2 separate regions of the Homo sapiens genome follow, and region 2 is linked to region 1. Evidence: fine-mapped expression QTL. A gene starts in region 1. The other region holds a variant in brackets. All regions are shown on one strand. Distances are from middle to middle. Region 1 holds the start of NT5M (5',3'-nucleotidase, mitochondrial). Region 2 overlaps COPS3 (COP9 signalosome subunit 3).

Region 1 (2,912 bases):
CCCCACACGTACAGAGCCTACATATTTGCACAAAGAACTGGAAAAGCTGCTGCACTTTTCGGAGTTGGGGGTGGGCTTGGTTTCCACGTTAATACACTCCCGGGCGGATATATGGTGTCCAGACTCCCCATGCCGAGCGCTGCCTATAAATGAACACTCGCCACACACTGGAGCCTATTCCTGAGGCTGCAGAAAGTACCAGGGCATTTTCTCCAGTTTAAAGTTTATCATTAGGCATCCGCTGTAGAAGAGCTCAGCACACTGGGCTCTGTGAAAGTCACCTTCTGAAGTGCCTGGTGTTGATGGAGACAAACGGTACTTGGTTTCCTTTTTTAACACCTGTCCCTCAACAAACCACATTACTGATGAGGCATCTTTCTGATGTCAGAAGAAATGTCACTTGTTAGAGACAGTAGTACAGAGAACAGGACTGTGGAGTGGGGAGCACTAACTGTGCTTGGGAGGCAGACAGACTTGGGTTTGAGTCCTGACTGAGCCCCTGAGCAGCATGTGACTTGGGGCAAGTTTCCTCATCTGGAAAACAGAGATAATAATATCTACCCAACAAAAGAGAGGATGCAGTGAACTTGTGGCTAAAAAACGGGCTCTTGTAACTTCCTTCTCCTCTTTATCAAACCCTCCAGCAGCAACCCTAGGTGGCCAATCAAGGGATGCCAAAAAACACTCAGCCTCTTTAATTTTGTGCATACCAAAATCCCCTGTTCCTTTTGCAAAATACTTCAAATTTACCAACCAAGATCTGTGTGTAAACGTCCCTCCTTGGATCTTTCCCCTCTATCCATCCTGGACAGAACACCTCGGGAGTCGGATGGTAGGGGTTGAGCTCAGGTGTTCAGCAAGGCCAGCTCTGCAAGGGGATAAGACATGAGGTGGATCCCACCTCACCTGGACCACTGACTCACTGTGTGACCCCCAGAAAGTCACACAACCTCTCTGGGCCTCAAATACCCCTGGAAGCTATGCTTTCATGGACAACAGTAAAAAAGATGGGTAAAGACACCCATCAAAGTCCTGGGGACAAAGAAGTGGGAATGTGACTGCGGTCGGGGTGAAAGAGGACAACTTATAACGTTTATTTTTCTAAAAATTTAACAAACGACTTGAGGCCAAATATGCCACAAATTTTGAAGTCAGCTTTAAATGCAGAGTTAGGTATATTAACACTTTGTACTCTCCCGCATTTTCAGAAACCTTGGATGGCAGCCAACAGATCCTGAGCGCGGGGCCGCATCTTCCCGGTGCGCTGTGGCCCCTAGTCCCCCCCAGACCCTATTCTATCAGAGGGCCACCCCGAGGCTGGGGCGCTGACCGTCCAAGGTCACCGGCGCAGGGGCGGTGTCTGGGGCTCGGGGCGAGAAGGAGGCCCGGCGCGGGGCGGGGCGGGGACGCTCACGCTCAGCCCTGGCCGCAGGCGGCCGTACTGCTCCGACACCCAGAAGCCGCGCCGGTCCTCCAGCGCGATGAAGGGCTGGTCGGGAAAGCGCGCGCGGAACTTCCTGAGGAATCCGCCCTCGAAGTCAGCCAGCACGCCGTCCATGTCCACCAGCACCCGTAGGGCGCGGCCTCCCGCCAGGCCCAGCCCGCCCGCCGCCCCGCGCCGCCCCGCGGGAACCGCCGCGCTGCAGAGCCGCCGCGCACACCAGCCGCCCAGCCGGATCATGGCCCAGCGCGCTGGCCCGTCGTGGGCGCGGGGACCTGGGCCGCGCCGTGCTGCCGGAGCCGGCCAGACATTCCCGCCGCGGAGGAGAAGCCCCCAACGCTGGGGCGCGCGTGGAGCGCGGGACGGGGAGCGGGGCGGGGAGCGCGGGGTGCGGGCGCGCAAGTACCGGCCCCAGAGCGAGGCCGCGGCGCGCGCGGTCCCTAAAGGAACACGCGCCGGCGGAGGCGGAGCCCCGGGGCGGGGCTTCGAGGACGGACAGCGGTAAGCGCCGCGCGCCTCCAGAAGGTCCGCGCTCCCGCGCTGTCGATTTGCGTCTTCTCCGTGGACCCTGGGCCCGGGCTGCCTTCTCCCACTGCACAGACTACCATGGAGGAGCAGTGCAAACCGAGAAGCAGGCCTGTGTCGTTAGACATTTTTGAGCACTAACTGTGTCGAGTGTGAACCAAATAGACAAAGTTCCTGCCATCCTGGAACTTACGTTTTAGAAGGGGATCCAGACAACAGGATGGAGGAACAAAAACAGGGTGCACTCTGAAAGCCTCTCTGCTTTATTTACAGCAAATGTCTGCGGAGAGACTGATAGAACCAATATCTGCTAACATCATACAGCCTTAGTAAAACTGATGATTCTCAGGTAAATATATGAATAAATATTAAGTACCCCTGTATTGCTTTTTTTTTTTTTTTTTTTTGGAGACGGGGTCTTGCTCTGTTACCCAGGGTGGAAGCAGTGGCATGATCTCGGTTCCCTGCAGCCTTGAGTTTCTGGGCCCAAGGGATCGTCCTGCTTCTGCCTCCTGAGTAGCTGGGACCACAGGGGCCTGCCACCACACCCTGGTAATTTTTTTTTTTTTTTTTTTTTTTTTGAGACAGGAGTCTTCCTATGTTGGGCTCAAACGATCCTCCCACCTCAGCCTCCCAAAGTGCTGGGATTACAGGCGTGAGCCACCGCGCCCGGCCTCTTTTCAACTTTTAAGTACAGGGATACATGTGCAGATTTGTTATATAAATTGACTGTCTTGGGGGTTTAGTGTACAGATTATTATTACCCAGGTAATAAGCGTAGTTCCTGATAGGTAGTTTTTCCATCCTCACCCTCCTCCCACTCTCCACCCTCAAGTAGGTCACCGTGTCTGTTGTCCCCATCATTACGTCCATGTTTACTTAATGTTTAGTTCCCGCTTTTAAGTGAGAGCATGAGGTATTTAATTTTCTGTTCCTGTGTTTGCTT
Region 2 (2,912 bases), 51 kb after region 1:
TGCAACCCCCACCTCCAGGGTTCAAACAATTCTCCTGTCTCAGCCTCCCGAGTAGCTGGTATTACAGGCGGCTATATTTACATATTTTCATTATCAGAATTTTTGTAAACCTCATAACCCTCATGAAATATTTTTGGTATACAAAGAGGTATAAGGTAGGGCTACTTCCTCTGCTTATCTGTGATGAGATCACAAGCTTTTGCCAGTACGTACATCAAGCAACTGCTGCAGCAAGAAATCTTGCTGAACAATGTTTGCTGAACTACACAGTGTGCTTAGCGACATCATTGACTGACATTCTGACTTAGCCTCTTCCGTCACTGAGGGTTTTGGTCCATAAGCAGCACTGACATAAAGGAGGCCAGAGCACACACCCAGGACTTAGCATCCAGCTTAGGAAATGAAATAGCACCAGTGCCCTGACACTCCCTCTTTATCACCTGCCAGTTGCATTTCCCCACTCTCAGCCCCACCCCAACCAGGCAACCACTCCTGATTTGGATAAGCATCATTTAAATGACTATATGATAACCCACCACATTGATGTATTGTAATCTACCTACCTATTCAGTTACATAAGTACATAGTTCTGATCTGGTTTTAGTTCACTGAAAACCTGTGTCCTTAGCTCAGGACAGGCAAAGCTTCATATGACCCCTTGTATGATTTCAGAATTTGGAGTATTTTGATTGATTGATTGATTGATTGAGACAAGGTCTTCCTGTGTTGCCCAGGCTGGAGTGCAGTGGCGTAATCATGGCTCACTGCAGCCTTGACTGCCTAGGCTTAAATGATCCTCTCACCTCAGCCTCCCAAGTAGCTGTGACTACAGATGTGTGCCACCACACCCAGCTAATTTTTAAATTTTTTGTACAGGCAGGGTCTCTTTATGTTGGCCAGGCATAACTTGAGATTTCTGGCCTCAAGTGACCTTCCCACCTTGGCCTCCCAAAGTGCTGGGATTACAGCTGGATACAGCCACTGCACCCAGCTGAGTATTTCATTTTGATAGTTGAATTTACAAGTGTTCTAAAGGGTTTTTTGCTTCAACCTACCATTCAAAACATGCACACACCAAACAAAACCATACCTCTATGACTTGTGTCTGCTAAGAGCATCTTGGTAACCCCACAGGGGTTACACAGAATAAGCTATAGACGCTTTCCCCAAGAAATTCCCTCTTCAGTGGCGAGTGAGAAGAAATACATGAGTGGTTATGACACCAGACAGGACATACTAGCTAGCAACGCGTTGCGGGGTCAAAGTGGGTGTGAGTTTTGAGCCCTGCTTAACCAGCCCAGACACCCTGACAGGCTCTGGAGCAGTGGTTCTCCTCTGAGGGTGATTTTGTCTGCCAGGAGACATTAGGCAACGTCTGGAAGCAGTTTTGGTTTTCACAGATGGGGGTGCTACTGGCGTCTAATGGGTACGGGCCAGGGATGCTGCTAAACGTCCTGCAGTGCCCAGGACAGCCCACACACCAAAGCGTTATCTGTACCCAGGACAGCCCACACACCAAAGCGTTATCTGTACCCAGGACAGCCCACACACCAAAGCGTTATCTGTACCCTGGACAGCCCACACACCAAAGCGTTATCTGCCCCCAAATGTCAGGACTGCCAGGCTTGAGAAACCCTTCTGGAATGAAAGGTCTGTGAGACCAGGGTTTTTTTTTGTTTGTTTGTTTTTTAAAGTAAACATTGGAAAAGTACACTTAAGTGTACGGCTAAACACATTTTCACAAAGATTCCA[A/G]CACCTAGAAGAAGGAACAGAATATGACCAGCACCCGGAAAATATCCCTTGTGTCTGCTTCCAGCCCTGTGCCTCTCTAGAAAGGTTGTTCCCATCCTGACTTTTTTTTTTTGAGACGGAGTCTTGCTCTGTCACCCAGGCTGGAGTGCAGTGGTGCGATCTCAGCTCACTGCAAGCTCCACCTCCCAGGTTCACGCCATTCTCCTGCCTCAGCCTCCCGAGTAGCTGGGACTACAGGCGCCCACCACTACGCCTGGCTAATTTTTTGTATTTTTAGTAGAGACGGGGTTTCACCATGTTAGCCAGGATGGTCTTGATCTCCTGACCTCGGCCTCCCAAAGTGCTGGGATTACAGGCATGAGCCACCGTGCCCGGCCTCCCATCCTGACTTCTAACATCCTATTTTAGTTCTGTTTGTTTCTGAGTTTGATGTAGAAGGAAACACACAGCACATTCTTTCTGGGAATCTGGTTTTTTGGCTCAGCATTGTGAGAGTCATGCATGATGCTGTATGTAGCCGTAGTTCATTCGTTTTCAGGGCTACAATGTTCCAGTGTTTGATACACCTTTCCATTTTAATTAGTTGGACAGGCTGGGCGTGGTGCCTGTAATCTCAGCACTTTGGGAGGCTGAGGCAGGCAGCTCACCTGAGGTCAGGAGTTCAAGACCAGCCTGGCCAACATGGTGAAACCCCGTCTCTACTAAAAATACAAAAAAAATTAGCTAGGCATGATGGCGGGCGCCTGTAATCCCAGCTACTTGGGAGGCTGAGGCTGGAGAATCGCTCAAACCCAGGAGGCGGAGGTTGCAGTGACTGGAGATCACACCATTGCACTCCAGCCTGGGTGACAAGAGCGAAACTCCGTCTCCAAAAAAATAAATAAATAGGCCGGGTATGGTGGCTCACACCTGTAATTCCAGCACTTTGGGAGGCTGAGGCGGGCAGATCATGAGGTCAGGAGATCGAGAGCATCCTGGCTAACATAGTGAAACCCCGTCTCTACTAAAAGTACAAAAAATTAGCCAGGCGTGGTGGCAGATGCCTGTAGTCCCAGCTACTCGGGAGGCTGAGGCAGGAGAATGGCATGAACCTGGGAGGTGGAGCTTGCAGTGAGCTGAGATTGCGCCACTGCACTCCAGCCTGGGCAACAGTGCAAGAC

The links. PIP is the estimated chance that this variant, and not a neighbour inherited with it, causes the effect.
Region 2: its variant is fine-mapped to the expression of NT5M in whole blood (TOPMed, PIP above 0.99).

What each region holds. Positions count from the first base shown.
Region 1 is chr17:17,302,320-17,305,231 of GRCh38, reverse strand. It overlaps NT5M (5',3'-nucleotidase, mitochondrial), which reads right to left and starts at 1,859. Exons shown (of 5, transcript NM_020201.4): 1 at 1,415-1,859. The coding sequence starts at 1,681. RefSeq lists silencers at 1,290-1,479, 1,610-1,709, 1,760-1,929.
Region 2 is chr17:17,251,021-17,253,932 of GRCh38, reverse strand. The region is part of intron 9 of COPS3 (COP9 signalosome subunit 3); the gene reads left to right. Among named protein-coding and RNA genes, the nearest start is that of FLCN, 15 kb to the right of the region's middle. RefSeq lists a silencer at 2,641-2,743. The variant A/G (reference allele first, on the strand shown) is at 1,753.